Regions from separate parts of the Homo sapiens genome. Here region 2 is linked to region 1. Evidence: fine-mapped expression QTL. Tissue or cell type: sun-exposed skin. Region 1 holds a variant in brackets; the other region holds the start of a gene. All regions are shown on one strand. Distances are between the middles of the regions.

Region 1 (7,552 bases):
ATCTTTTGGCCTCCCTCATTGGCTAATGCCCAGCTATCATCCCAGGGATCCGAGAAGCCTCGGTCCCCCAAGTGCTATGAGCCACCCTCCCCCGGGTGCCACGGCCCCGTCTGCTGCCTGCTCCTGTCTGTGTCTCCGTGAACGGTCAGCCGCAGGGACGTCCAGATGCTTCACCATCAGAACCCAGCAACTAGGACCGTGCCAGGCACCGTACTCATTCACGCAATGAAGGAACGGGTGAGGGAGTGAGCGACTGACTCCAAGGCCCCTGCCATGTAGGAATTCTTAGGCTTCAGGCACAGTGGGTTTCCCGAGTGGCCAACTGCAAAGGGGAGAGCCTGGCCTTGGAGCCCGAGTGTGCCCGGCTCCCCGATGCTCTGCTCACACCCTGCTGCTGCCAGAGTCCCGGGGCTGCCCAGCCTCTCCCCAGGACATGCTGAAACAGTGGCATCCCAAGCCTTCCGTGGATGGATGGCAAATAGGCAGGGCTGGGGTCCAGGGCTGGGCGGGCTGTTGAGATAGAAGCTAGGACCACCGCAGGGCTAGATGCTCCGCCTCCCGCCACCCTCCTATCAGGGACGCTCCCCCTGCAAGACTGTCCTGGGACGGGAGACTGACAGTCCTGGGCTCATCACAAATGGTACTGATCCCTGACAAAGGAGCCTCATCCTGATGTCTGACAAAGGCACCTCACCCATCAGCAAATGGCAGTGGGGGGCGTGGCCAGGGACACCCCCCAGCCCCGGTCCTCTTTGTGTTTTCTTTCCCCACCTCAAGAATTCTCAGGCATCCTCTGAGGAGGAGCAGGACACATGGAGACACCGGGAAAGTCTTTGGAGTCTCTTGCTGGAAGGCCAGAAGCAGTGTTCCTGTCTACAGGCGAGGGCAAGAACTGGCCCCGGTGCAGGGGCTTCTGACGGCGCAGAGCGCCAGGCGAAGCTCTTGTGGAATCCAGGTGCTTCTGCCTCCATTCTGGGCTCGTTTTACCACAGTGCAGGCACTGGGAGCCCTTGCTGTCTGTGTTTTGGGGTCACAGGCGACTCAGGGTCTTGAGTGTGCACAGCCCTCCCTCCCAGGCCGGGGAGCCCCCAGTCAGGAGGCCTGAGGGTCAGGAGGCTGGGCATCTGGTCCCAGGGCCAGGCCGCCTGCTGTGTAACCCTGGACAGGCCATTCCACCTCTTGGGCCTCAGTTGGGTTATTGGAAAAGCAAGAGAAAGAATTCATTCCTACTTCACAGGACCTTGGGATTAAAGGAGAATGTGCCTTAGAGGAGGGGTGTGAAGCCAGGCTCAAGATGCCTGGGAGAAGCCGCCTGAGGCCTGCTGCAGGGGCTGGAGTTGGCTTCCTGGAAGCCCATTCGGCTGCCCTGCACACATCAGGAGACAGGGAGTGATCCAGCGCCATCCTCAGGCACCCAGTGCATCCCAGCTGCTCTAGCCTGCTGGGGAACATGGCATGGCCAGCCTTGCCCACTGCCTGCCCGGACGCACCGTCCTCAGGGACATCCATGCCTCACCTCCCCGGCAAGCACCCCTCCAGTCGCCACCTCCTGCCTCTGTCAGGCCCAGCCCTCAGAGCGCCGCCCTATGTTCCCACACAGACAAGGAGAGCTGGTCCAGGGAGGGCGCCTCTCCCTGCGTGCTGGGCCTGGCTGTGTGGGAGGCAGTGGGCACTCGCCACCACTACCGCCTCCTTCACCGCGGGCCTTTGGCATCGAGGGGCTCTCCGACTGCCAAGGTTTAAATGGCAACTGGCGCAGGCTCCCAGCCCCAGGCCCGTCTCCGCCGGCTCTCTGGACAGCTGACAGCTGTCACACACTGCGGCAGGCATATGCTCGCCCAGCCCCATGTCCCACTAGCCAGGGCGCAAAACAAGCCCTGAGGCCCCTGCCCCATCCTGCCACATCCCAGGCTGCACATGGCCAGAGTCCAGCCTCCAGGCAGGCAGCTCCGTCCTCCTCCAGGCCTCTCTGACTACACCAGAAAGAAGGATAACCAGGCCCTGTGGTTGACACTGCCAAAAATTTGCTCTGTGACCATCAGACACATTAGTCCCTTCTCCCTGGGTCTCACTTCCTCATCTTCACAAAGCAGGGGCCAATGGCCCCACAGTCTCTCCCAGCTCTGACAGCCAAGCTTGCCTGCCCTAAATCATCAGAGACACAAGAGCCTACTCCAGGACCGAGGGGCACAGACCAGGGTGGGGCTGCGTCCTGGCTCATGGGCCCCAGGGATGAGGGGACGTTGGTGATGTTGGGAGACAGAGCACCTGGGACCATCCCTACCCTCCGTTCACTCATGAAGGCGCCTTCTGGGAACCACCTCCAAGTGCTTTTGCCTTCGGGTTCAGACTTCCATGGAAAGACTTGAGGCTCTTGGGCGAGGTGTGTAGGGCTCAGGAAGGGCACTGGCCGTGGGGACAGACGCAACTGGCATGGCCTGAGGATAGGCCAAGAGCCAGGGAGGAGAACAAGGGCCCCGGGGGAGGAGGGGCTGCCAGAACAAGCTGCTGTGACCCGGGGGGCCGACAGCCTGCAGGGCCTTCTCTGATGGCACTGCTGCTCCCTGGAACCAGGGTGGCATCCTCGCTTGGCACAGCTGGCCCTCGGGGCTGCCCAGGCCTGCCCGGGTCCCATGTGGCAGGAGGGACTCGGAGCAGGCACATGGGCCAGGGGCAGGAAGGTGTCGGGCCAGGCCAGCCAAATGCAGGCAGGCAAGGGGCCGCCACAGGGACACAGGTGGCAGCGTGAGTGCTCCCCCAGAGCCGGAGAAGGGGTTCTCTCCAGGGCAGGCTCTGCAGACCTGAACCTGCCCAACCAGTGGCCCCACCAGAGCCAGGACAGCACACACCCAGGAAGAAGCCACGAAGCCCTCACAGAATGCACACGTCACAGAATGCAC[A/G]CTTCACAGAATGCACACTTGAGATTCTCGCAGCCCCGGGGCCTGAGCTGAGGGGTCACCGGCAGTGCCGTGGGAGTCAGGCTGCCCTCCCGGAAGCCAGGCTGCTCCTGAGCAGAGCGGAGGCTCCATCGCCCTCCGGGGGGCACGGTGGCAGTCTCCAGGCTGCACTGGGGTTGGATGAGCTGGGGGTGGAGCACAAGGGGTCAGTCCCTCTCCCCACATCCCACGACTTTCCATGAAGGCCTCCCTGCTCAGGGGCCCCATGCTCAGAGGCCAGGGGTGACCTGGGGTGGATTCTGGACACACCTCTGCCCCCAAATGCCTTAGCAGCACTGAACCAGGACGTGGAAAGGGGCCAGCACTGACCTTAACTGCCAGCAGGAGGTCCACTATCGTCTGTCTAGGTAATGGCAGTGCCTCAGTGTGCCCTGGAGAATTGCTCCTCAGGCCGCTCCAGGACAGGGGCCGGGGTACTTCCTCCCAGTGGCCCTAACCACACCTACTGAGCACCGCTCCTGGGGGACCTCAGGTGCCCACACTCCACTCAGATCTGGGGCCTCTTGTTTTGCCCCAGCACCGGCCGTCCCCACCCCAGCTGCCCTCCATGGCTACTGCTGTGCCAAGGATGGGCTGGGCCCCCACCCCAGGCCCTGCCTGCCTCTTCTTGCCCTCGCGAGGGCTGTCAACCTCCTTCCTGACACTGTCTCACAGGCCCACCAGGTGACCCTGAGCATCAGGCATGGCCCATCCCCATCTCCTGAGGGTCATAGTAACCACCAGAGCCCCCTGTCACTCATGCTTCTGGGGCTTGCTCTGAACCCATGTCCTCCAAACTCTGTGGCCCCGTCCCCCCTCCCGCTGCTTGTCCTCCCCATCCTACTGTTGGGGCTCACTCTCCACGGGGTGTGAATTTCCCTAGAGATTCTGACTCGGGTGGCCTCTGGGTCTCTGCCCCACCCTGCCTCATGCAGGAGCCCCATGCTCAGGCCCTTGGGACAGCGCCCTGGCTGCTCCTTGCCCACACAGGCGCTCAAGCGGAAGGAGCTCACATGTCCATTCCCATCCCAGCACTCAGTAACCTCTCCCATTAACCTTCCCTGCTACAGCCGATTAAGCAAAGTCCCTAGAGAGTTGTAGAATCGGTGGCTCAGAAACATCCCATCCTCTCTGTAATAGTCAGCGTGGGCTGCCACAGCAAAATACCACAGACGAGGTGGCTTAAACGGTGGATACTTAACTCTCACAGCTCTGGTGAGTGCAAGTTTAAGGTCAGGGCATCCACCCGCAGGGCTCTCTCCTCGGGTGATGGGCGGCCGCCTTCTGGGTGCATCTTCACGTGGCCTTCCTCAGTGCACGCATGCAGGGAGGAGAGAGGGCACCTCAGGTGTCTCTTCTTATAAGGTCAGTGTCCCTCCCTGATAACCCCATTTAGGATTAGTTGCTTCCTTAGAGTCCCTATCTCCAAATACAGCCACACTGGGACTTAGGGTTTTAACACATACATTTGCAGGGGGACACGGACATTCACATCACAAGACCCCACCCCCCTACGCCCCCATTCAGGTGACAGTTCAGGAACTTTCTGCCAGAGAGCTGGAGCAAACTGCTAAATGTGGCAAAGTGAGTTTGGGTGCACCCTGAGTTCTCTACTCCCAGCTGAGCGGCTTCCCCACCCCAGAGTTCCTGCTCCAGCCAGCATTTCCAAAGCACTTACCGTGCAAGTCTGAGAGGCAATCGCATCAATTATGCTCACAGAGGTCCTGAGCATGCACTTTCCCACAGCCCTCTCACAGTTGCCTCGTGCACTCGGAGACTCAGGGAGAAAGCACTATCGGGGGGCTGCTCCGAGCCCAGACATCCGGCCCTGGTGGAAGGAAAACATGGAGTCTGCTCTCTGGGCTAATTGGTGCCTCCTCTGACTTGGGCACCTCCCTCAGGCCTGAGGAGCAGGTGGGAACTTTGACCCACTGAACCGAGTGAGGGGCGCTGGTCTGAGGCTGGCTGGGCAGAGATGCATCCGTGGGAGCCGAGAAAGTCCCTGCCGTGCTCCTGATCCTCCTGCTGGGCTCCAGCATCATGCAGTATTCCCTGCAGGCAGGCCCACTCCTCAACTACCCCCTTGCCCTTGGTGTCCCAGAGGCTGAGGGTGCAGCCCAGGATACCTGAGGGTGCCCGCTCAGCACTCAGGCACATAGCCTGGATGTGCAAGGGAGTGGGGCAGCCGTTGGCCCATGAGGGTGGAGCCTGGTGGGTCTTCCATGTCTGGGTGCACAATTCTATGGCACACGCCATGCGGCTCCTAGGGCATCCCGTGGGCTTGAGCCCCAGGTGGCCACTACAGTGGCCTGTTTGAGGCCACAGCCTTGTAGGACCAAGCACCCTGTCTCGTTCTGCCTCACCCTGCCTGCACCCTGATTCCTGAGCGTCTGAAATCACTTGCCGAAGCAAAGGGCTCCCGTACAAACCCTTGTCTCAAGTTCCGTGTTCGGGGGAACGTCTGCATTCAGAGATGACCCTAGTGCGCCCTGCTGCCTGGAGTCCACACCCTTGTGTTCTGAGGACCTGGCGCAGTCGCTGGCACAGGGCAGTGCTCAGTGAGGGTTTCTAAATGAGCCTCCCCTCGGGGCCGGGGCATGGGGTTTGGTGTCTCATCGAAGCTGCTGGCTACCAAGTGAGCAGCCTGCTCACACATGGACTCGGTGACTGTCACCACGTAGAGGCACTAAGACCCTAGAGGCCAGGAGAGCCCTGCTCTGGGGAGCACCAACTGGCACCTGGGCCCCAAGAGAGACTTGGTGAGCTCCTGGGAGCAGGGACAGAGGACAGAGGCCTGGAGGCCACGGAGGGCAGGGAGCCCAGGAGAGGAAAGTGGTTCCAGTCAGCTACACTCACCATGGGCACAGCCCGCCACCCCTCAGCCTCCTCAGCCACTGTTGGGACAGGAAGAGGGGGCGTCCAGGGGCAAGGCTGGGCTCAGCACCTGGGAGCTGTGGGGAGGTGAGGGGTACCATGGGCTGGCCTATGAGGCAGGGCAGCCGCAGGAAGGTCAGCTAGCTGCAGGAAACACCCCTCATACAGCTCCAGGCTGACCTCACACAGCTCCAGGCTGACCGCATTCTCTGTGCTTGGAATGTGCTTCTGCTCCTCTCTGCCTTCCTCTGGGAATAGCAGTTCTCCTGGAGGAGGGACTGCTGATGGCTCTTTCCATTGCCTCTTTGAGATGCAAATTCCCTGACCCAGGGGCACCCCCTCTGTGGGCTGCTCTCTCCCCTGCCAGGCCAAACAATCACTGCCTGGCAGCCACTGGGGCTGGTGGCTCCTTCATTACCTGCCTCACCATGCACCTGGTGGGTTCTTTCCCAGCTGCTGGCTCCCCCAGGGACAGGAGAGGCCGGGCCCTTGCCAGCTGATGTGGGTTCCTGCGTGGCCCGTGCTGGCTGCTCACAGGCGGGCACTGCTGCCGCTGCTGCACCTGCACTTCCTTTCTTGCTCATCTTTGTCAAGGAGGATGCCTGGGGCTGCGGCTCCTCTGCACCCTTCCCGAAACCTGTCAGCCCTTTTGGGGACTGGGCACAGATGGCAGGTCCTGCAGCTCCTCTCATCTTTCTGTTCAGAAGCCATCCTGTCCGGCTCAGGCCAGGTGGCGAGGGGAATCAGCCCCGGCCTCAGGGTTCACACCCTCTTCCCTCCCTGACAGCCATGTGGGCTGATGTCCCCCAGCTGTGCTGAACGCCAAGGTGACCATCAACCACCAGTCACTCAAATGAGGAGGCTTTGATCAGAGGTGAATGGCTCAGCTGTGAGGTGTCATTTGCTGGGCTGGAGTGAGGCCCAAGAGGGTTGTTCAGTCCTGGGGGTCCCCAGGGAAGGGTCTGGGCCTTGCATCTGTCCTCAGGAGCAGCCAGGGGGCAATGGCAGCGCCGTGCTTTCTGGGCAGTGGGGCATGTGCTGGGACCACCCCAGCATCGCCTACCGACGTCCTTCTACCATCCACGAACACATCGCCACAGTCCCTAGAACCCAGCACTTGAGGGGGCAGTGGCCACCAGACTTTAGCCACTGGGCCACCAGTTCCTGCCCAGACATAAGACAAAAGGGGAAGCTGAGGTTGCCCACAGCCACTATGAGCTGCACTGGGACTCTGCTGGTGCGACCCGGAAGAAAGGAGGGGCTGAGGCTGAAGCACCAGCCAAAATGGCTTCCATGGGCTGCTGGGCTGGATCCTCAACAGATGACTCCAGGGTGCAGTCTGTAGTGGCTGAACCATTCCAGGTGTCCACAGTGGCACAGGACATTGTGTGTATGTACATGTGGGCATGCAGGTGCACACATGTCTGTGGGTGCATGTGTGTGAATGGGAGTATGCATGTGTGTGCATGAGTGTGAAGTGTGCGGAGTGGAACTGGCCCTGTAGAACAGGGGTCCACCTCAGCCGCTCTCTTAAGGCTCCACACTAGCCTGGCTTCAGCTACCTTCTGCATCTTGGTGGTCCCAAAGTGCTACAGCCAACTGTCATTTATCTTTGAGCATCAAATATGAATGCGCACACACACACACACACACACACACACACCCCTATCCATTCATGCATCTGCCCATTTATCTAACGGAGCCCCTTCCTCCTGCATCTGGCCATTGGTGGCATCTCAGCC
Region 2 (7,552 bases), 660 kb after region 1:
GTCATGGGGCATACCAGGCACATGGTGGGACTAGAACCCAGGGCCGCTGGATGGGGGTTCCCAAGGCAGGGTCTCCTGGGACAGGAAGGCTGGTTCCATCCCTGGTGTGACTGCTTACCACCTCAGGGACGGGATCACTTGGTCTCCCAGGACTTGGGTGCTGCTGGTGGGGAGTGGAGATTGGCATGGAACTGGGGTCGGAACTGGGGCCTGATCCCCAAGATGCATGGGGCTCCCCCAGGTGCTCCTACCATTACTCAGGGAACCTTGGATCTCTTCTCAAAGACCAAGTCCATTCTGGCACTGGGGAGGGATCAGAAAGAGAGGAAGAGAAGGAAGAAAATACACTAGTGTGTGATCACCCAGGGGGTTCATTTTGACCCCTGGCAAGATACAGCCGATTTATCAAGACAGGGGAATCACAATAGAGAAAGAGTTTAATTCACACAGAGCCAGCTGACCGGGAGACTGGAGTTTTATTATCACTCACATCAGCCTCTCAGCCCCTGTCCACCGGATGAGGATCTGCAGGAAGCCATGCCCCTTGTGGCAGAACTTCCCAGAAAGGAGAACTGCCAGAAGATCCAGGCTCAGTTTAGGCTCAGGGGCTGCATTCAGTGTATGGCCAAAGTGTGAATGACAGGGGACAGGGATTCGCCTGTGACCAGGGTCAAAAATCAGAGGGTGACCACAGTCAGGGTTCATTCTGTGACCAGGATCAGGGCTCAGCCAGTGGCCAGGGCCAGGGCTCAGGGTGGGGCCGTAACCAGGGCTCGTTAGGTAACCAGGATTAGAGTTCAGACTGACCACAGTGAGGGCTCAGTTTTGGGGTGAGGTCAGAACCCAACCTGTGGTCAGGGGTGGGGCTCTAGGAATGTCACAGCCATGGTCTTCCGTATAGGAGCCATGACCACGGGGCCATCCTCAGACCAGCCACACCCTCAGTGCGGCGGATGCTGGGGCTGCGGATTCTGTGGTGGGGATCCTGTGTGTTGCCCCCTCCTTGGCCTGCACCCACTAGAGGCCAGCAGCACCCCTGAGCTGGAATAAGCAGAGATGCCTCCAGACATCACCAAACATTCCCTGGCGGTGCAGAGTCACCCACGTGAGAACCACTGCCTTACAGCAATCACTGTGTATCAAATCAGATCAACAAACACTTACACACCTATAAATATTTGAGGACGGAAAGTTCCAGGCTGGCACCTTGAACACAGAGACAGATAAGAAAACGTCTTGTGCGGGAGTGGCCAGAGTCCGGGCGAGCTGGGGCGGGGGGCGGAGGGAGGATGGGACAGGGGCTGTCAGCCACACACGGAAGCAGTTCATGACTGTATGAGGCCCCTTGTCCTGAGCTTACAGGACATGGGCTGGAGGGCGTGTCCAGAGGGAAAGTTCTGGGTGGGCAGAGTGGGCAAGCAAGGAGTCTGGGGGAGGCTGCAGTCACCCTGCATGGCCTCCAGTAAGTTCCTGTCCCTCTTGGGCTCAGGCTCCTCACTTGCCAGAGAAGAGACAATTTCCATGGAAAAGAGCCCAACCCAGTGGGTTCCAGGGAGGCAGGCAGGAGAGACCTCAGAAGGACAGGGGCTGACCTGGAGCCCCGGGGGAAGCCCAAAGGCAGATTCCTGGTGCCACTGAGTCCCAGGGAGGTCGGGTCTTGCATCGTCCCTGCCCCCATCAGTAGTGTCACCTTGATCCCAGACTCAAGGTGAGACAGTGGGAAGCTGATGTCCCCTGAACACCCCAGAAACATCTACCAGCCTTCCTGGACGGTGCAGGCCTTCCTGGACGGTGCAGACCTGCTGGGAGAGGGTCCGATTCCCCGAGACTTTTCCTGACTGCAACATCCTCACCACCCCCTAAAATGTGCCAGAGCCTTTTCAGGGGCAAAATCGAGGAGAGGAGGTAACAATGAAGGCCGGACAACCATCAGCGGGGACGAGAGAGCGTCAGGGGAGAAGGGGCCGGTCTCCCTCCAGACACACACTCGGCAGCAGGCAGGGCCACGGACCACAGTGGACCTACCAGCTTCCGGCAGGAACAACAGCATACCCAAGAGGGTTGCCAGGCAGAGTTATCTAACTCAGGGTCCATGTACAAAGGCAGGGGTCAGGTTGAAGGAGACAGCAGCGGCCACAAGTCCCCCTCAAAGCCAGCCAGCAGCAGGAAGCCACCAGCCCCTCGGGCTTGCAGGGATGAGGGGGAGAGCACAGTGACCAGAGGCTGGCCAGAACCCGGGGGACAGGAGAAGCCTGGCTGACGGGACCTGGGCCTTCTCTAGAGGGCCATAGCCACTGCCACCACCACCCAGCCACTGGCAGGAGAGCCTGGGCCTGCTCTAGAGGGCCATAGCCACTGCCACCACCACCCAGCCACTGGCAGCAGAGCTTGGGCCTGCTCTAGAGGGTCCTAGCCACTGCTACCACCACCCAGCTGGCTGGCAGGAGAGCCTGGGCCTGCTCTAGAGGACCATAGCTACTGCCACCAACACTCAGCCGGCTGGCAGGAGAGCCTAGGCCTGTACTAGAGGACCATAGCTACTGCCACCAACACTTAGCCAGCTGGCATGAGAGCCTGGGCCTGCTCTAGAGGGCCATAGCCGCTGCCACCACCCACCGCCCAGCTGACTGGCATGAGAGCTTGGGCCTGCTCTAGAGGGCCATAGCCACTGCCACCACCGCCCAGCGGGCTGGGCCTGCTCTAGAGGGCCATAGCCACTGCCACCACCTCCCAGCTGACTGGCAGGAGAGCTGGCCTGAACTTGCCTCTTCCACTCTCTCATCTCCTGCCTGTGGGAGCTGGACCAGCCTCCCAGGACATGGAGCAGGACGGAGAGGGGATCTGGGGCAAACAGAGGCCATACAGCCCTGGGCCTAGCCGCTGCCTCCTGCTACTGCAGAGGCTGCTAAAAGCTGCACTTCCCCGACTCGTTTGCAGCTAAAGTTCCAAGCTGAGGGGGTCACTCAAGGTCCTGAGGGTAAAGCACCTAGCCCAGGGCTCAGCCCACACTGAATGCCCCATAAATGAAGGCCCGTCCAACAGGGTCTCCTCCCCAGGGAGGCTGTCCCCTGTGTCAACAAGAGCCAAACTCTGTAAAATATTTGAAGACATTTATTCTGAGCCAAATATGAGGGACCATGGCCTGTGACACAGCCCCCAGGAGACCCTGAGAACATGTGCCCAAGGTGGTCAGTGCACAGCTTGATGGTACCCATTTTAGGGAGACATGAGACATCAATCAAATATATTGAAGATATACATTGGTTTAGTCCAGAAAGGTGGGCAGCTGGAACTGGGGGCTTCCAGGTTATAGGTGGATTTAAACATCTTCTGGTTGGCAATCGCTTGCAAGAGTTATCAATAGAAAGGAATGTCTGGGTTATACGGGGTTGTGGAGACCAAGGCTTTATCATCAGATGAAGCCTCCAGGTAGCAGGCTTCCGAGACAATAGATGGTAAATGTTTCTCATCAGACTGAAGGCCTGTGTTGATGTTAACGCTGGCTGTTCCAGAGTTCTGAAGGGAGGAGGGATAATGAGGCTATCCAACCCTTTGCTGTCATGGCCTGAACCAGTTTTTCAGGTTAACTTCGGAAAGCCCTTGCCAAGAGGAGGGTTCCACTCAGATGGCTGGGGGGCCTTAGAATGTTACTTTTGGTTTATACCGGAACAGCCCCTGCCCCTGTCCTTTGCAGCACCTGCTAATGATCTGTCAGTGACGCTGTGACCAAGGCTCATCACCCTGCGGGCCGTGGGCCCCAGAGGGCGGCACAGCTTCTATAGGAGCACAGGGCCCAGGGAGGTGCCCTCATCCTTGGCTGGAAGGCCGAGGCCTGGAGGAGTCTGGAGAAAGGGTCTCCCTTGTCTGGCCTTGCACTGTGAGGTGGGGGAGGTGGGAGAGGCATAATCTGGGTCTTGAGGACGTTTCAGCCCTCAGCCCGGGGTGGCTGAGATATGGCCCTGGGTAGGCTCTGTCCTCCAGAGGTGGAAAGAAGGACAAAGGGAGAGGGAGGTGCAGGTCGCTCAGGGAGGAGACTCGGACCTGCCCAGCCCCGGGGCCCTCACTGGCTCCAGGAAACCCGCTGGTGTTGACTGTGGGCAGTCCAGCCTCTCCCCATTTGAGGCCATATAAAGTCACCTGAGGCCCTCTCCACCACAGCCCACCAGTGACCACGAAGGCTGTGCTGCTTGCCCTGTTGATGGCAGGCTTGGCCCTGCAGCCAGGTGAGGCCTTGGCTGGCCCCCAGCAGGGAAGGGAGCAGGGGTGAGCCGGGGAGGCCAGAGGGATACCTGCAGGGCACACGGAGAGGAGGGGAAGGAAGGAGGAAGGGAGAGGAAGGGGGTGAGGCTCTTGCCCTAGCCTCCGCTCCTCCAGGGAAGCTCTTGGCACGACCAGGCAGCGACCTGTTCCCTGCCGTCCCCTGTGACCGGGGCTTGCAGGGGCAGCACGGAGTCACTCTCCTTCACCACCGTGGGGCAGGGCCTGGCTCCTAGGGGGCAGGTAGACAGACTGACGGATGGATGGGCAGAGATGCTGATGAGGAGCTGGGAGACATGGGACAGGAAGCCTCAGGCTAAGAAGTGGTTTTTGGGGCACAAGGGGGAGGTGCTGGGGGTGTCCTGCGAGGACCCGGGGGTCTACATCCGGCCCAGTCCCAGCACTGCAGCTTCCAAGGGTCCCAGGGAGCTGCTCTGCTTGAGGTGGGACCCTCCCGACCCAGGGTCCCGGGTTCAGTCACCCCCACAGCCGCAGCTTCCTCTTCTGAAACACACGGTCACAAAAGCAGCCACCGAGGGACTAAACAGGGCAACATTTCGGAGGCACTGAGCAGGGGGCCGTGAAGATGGGGAGGAGACATTGAGGGTGACAAGAGGGCGCCGAGGACTTCCTCAGGCCACCGCCATGGAGGCCCACCTGCCTGGGAGCCCCCATTCCTGGGGAGTGCTATGGGGCAGCCTCTGAGGCCCCTCCCACTCCACCCCACAGGCACTGCCCTGCTGTGCTACTCCTGCAAAGCCCAGGTGAGCAACGAGGACTGCCTGCAGGTGGAGAACTGCACCCAGCTGGGGGAGCAGTGCTGGACCGCGCGCATCCGTGAGTGGGGGGACGACAGCCGCCAGGCCTAGGTCTCTGCCACTGAACTATTAATCTTTCTGGCCATCTGTCCGCATCTGTGTGCTGTTTTCCTTCCACCTGTCCCCGACCCGTCCCGCACCTGCACCCCCAACAATCACCCAGCATCTGTCCCTCCAGCCATCCTCCTCCATCTGCCACTCCTCCACTCATCTGTCCCTCCCCATCCTCCATCTTCCACTCCTCCACCCATCTGTCCCTCCCCATCCCTGAGCTCACTTACTCACTCACCCCATTTCTGACGCTCAGCGGGTGGTCCATCTGCCTCGGACATCTGGATAGGGCTGAGACCAGGGCCGAGACCAGGCCCTCGCACTGCTTGCAATCCTGAGGCCAGCCCAGGGGGACTCTAGAGCATTAGGCAGGGTGGGACAGGAGGAGGCCTGGGGCAGGTCAGGCAGGTGAGCACACAGGGCAGCCCCATCCCCGGATCCCGCTGCTCCCCAGGCGCAGTTGGCCTCCTGACCGTCATCAGCAAAGGCTGCAGCTTGAACTGCGTGGATGACTCACAGGACTACTACGTGGGCAAGAAGAACATCACGTGCTGTGACACCGACTTGTGCAACGCCAGCGGGGCCCATGCCCTGCAGCCGGCTGCTGCCATCCTTGCGCTGCTCCCTGCACTCGGCCTGCTGCTCTGGGGACCCGGCCAGCTCTAGGCTCTGGGGGGCCCCGCTGCAGCCCACACTGGGTGTGGTGCCCCAGGCCTCTGTGCCACTCCTCACACACCCGGCCCAGTGGGAGCCTGTCCTGGTTCCTGAGGCACATCCTAACGCAAGTCTGACCATGTATGTCTGCGCCCCTGTCCCCCACCCTGACCCTCCCATGGCCCTCTCCAGGACTCCCACCCGGCAGATCGGCTCTATTGACACAGATCCGCCTGCAGATGGCCCCTCCAACCCTCTCTGCTGCTGTTTCCATGGCCCAGCATTCTCCACCCTTAACCCTGTGCTCAGGCACCTCTTCCCCCAGGAAGCCTTCCCTGCCCACCCCATCTATGACTTGAGCCAGGTCTGGTCCGTGGTGTCCCCCGCACCCAGCAGGGGACAGGCACTCAGGAGGGCCCGGTAAAGGCTGAGATGAAGTGGACTGAGTAGAACTGGAGGACAGGAGTCGACGTGAGTTCCTGGGAGTCTCCAGAGATGGGGCCTGGAGGCCTGGAGGAAGGGGCCAGGCCTCACATTCGTGGGGCTCCCTGAATGGCAGCCTCAGCACAGCGTAGGCCCTTAATAAACACCTGTTGGATAAGCCAGAGAGACCCTCTGTCCTTGCACACCCCAGGCGGGCACCGGATCCAGGGCTGTGTCTGGACCAGGGCCCTGGTCACATGGGCTGCAGCCTCCGCCCTAACAGGAGCAAAGCTTGGCCCCTGAAAGGAGGACGTCCCTGCAGAGGGTGGGAGGGCAGTTCCCAGGACTTGCACTTGCTGTGCTGCCTGGAGCATGTGGCCAGACCTCTCTGAGCCTTGCGACTCATCTATGACCCCTCCTTGCTGGGAGGATGGACCCAGAAAGTTCACAGGAAGGAGAGCGTTCCGGGGGGAGGGACTGCTACCATTCAAGCTCCTACCCATCCCCTTGGCCTGATTTGAGCACCCCCATTTTTCAAAATTTGTTTTAGAGCTGCACACCCACCATACAGCATTCAAACACTACAGCAGGGTCCCCGGTGACAGGTGGCCTCCCCCAACCCTGAACCCCAGCGCCTTCCCTCTCTGGGGTGCCCATTACACCTCCAGAGGCTTCTTTCTGGGAGAATCTGTGCCCCGTGAGCATCCCCAGGCCCCTGAGTGGGAGGACACCATCCACACTTGCCTTCTGCGCTCAGGGGAAGCCTTTTGCACACAGCCTGCTTCCCGCCCTAGGGCTAGGGGTGCAGCCTGTGACCTGGGTGGGGACCTGCTCAGGGTGAGGCCTCCAAGGGTGTTAGGGGTGGGGCTCGGGGGGCGGTTTCAGAGAAGAGGAGACAGAGGCTCAGGAAAGGGAACGGGTCTGTTGCCCACATCCCATACCGAGCCAGGATTGGAACCCTGGCCTGGAGCTCTGAGGGTGGGTCATGGAGCAGACAGTGGGCAGAGCTGTGCTGGAAAGAGCCAGGCCTCCCGTCTGACATGTGACTTCACGGGGAGACCTCCCTCCTGAACACTGGGGGCCCAGGGTGGCATTGTCAGCAGGGTGCAGCTCCCCAGGCCAGCATCTGAGTGACCCTGGGCACTGGTCACACCCTCCCCGCCTCGCCTACACCCAGCCCAGCCTGCCCGGCTTCCATGGTGAGCTCTGGGCTTCCATGGTGAGCTCTGCCCAACACCTACCCACCCTCCCAGGCCCAAGGCACACTCAGACCTGCCTTGGCCCAGGGCCTGAGTCCAGAGTTGAGGGCTAGGCCATTGTTTTCTGGGAGGGCCCTGCAGACCTGGGAG

Evidence for each region. PIP is the estimated chance that this variant, and not a neighbour inherited with it, causes the effect.
Region 2: PSCA starts here. The variant in region 1 is the best candidate, but not a certain one, in a credible set for the expression of PSCA in sun-exposed skin (GTEx, PIP 0.56).

The regions. Positions count from the first base shown.
Region 1 is chr8:142,014,502-142,022,053 of GRCh38, forward strand. No RefSeq gene overlaps it. Among named protein-coding and RNA genes, the nearest start is that of MIR4472-1, 160 kb to the right of the region's middle. RefSeq lists enhancers at 5,923-6,604, 6,605-7,284. The variant A/G (reference allele first, on the strand shown) is at 2,901.
Region 2 is chr8:142,676,341-142,683,892 of GRCh38, forward strand. PSCA (prostate stem cell antigen) reads left to right here and starts at 4,155. Exons shown (of 3, transcript NM_005672.5): 1 at 4,155-4,223; 2 at 4,987-5,094; 3 at 5,581-6,385. The coding sequence starts at 4,199. The coding sequence ends at 5,792. RefSeq lists an enhancer at 4,900-5,546.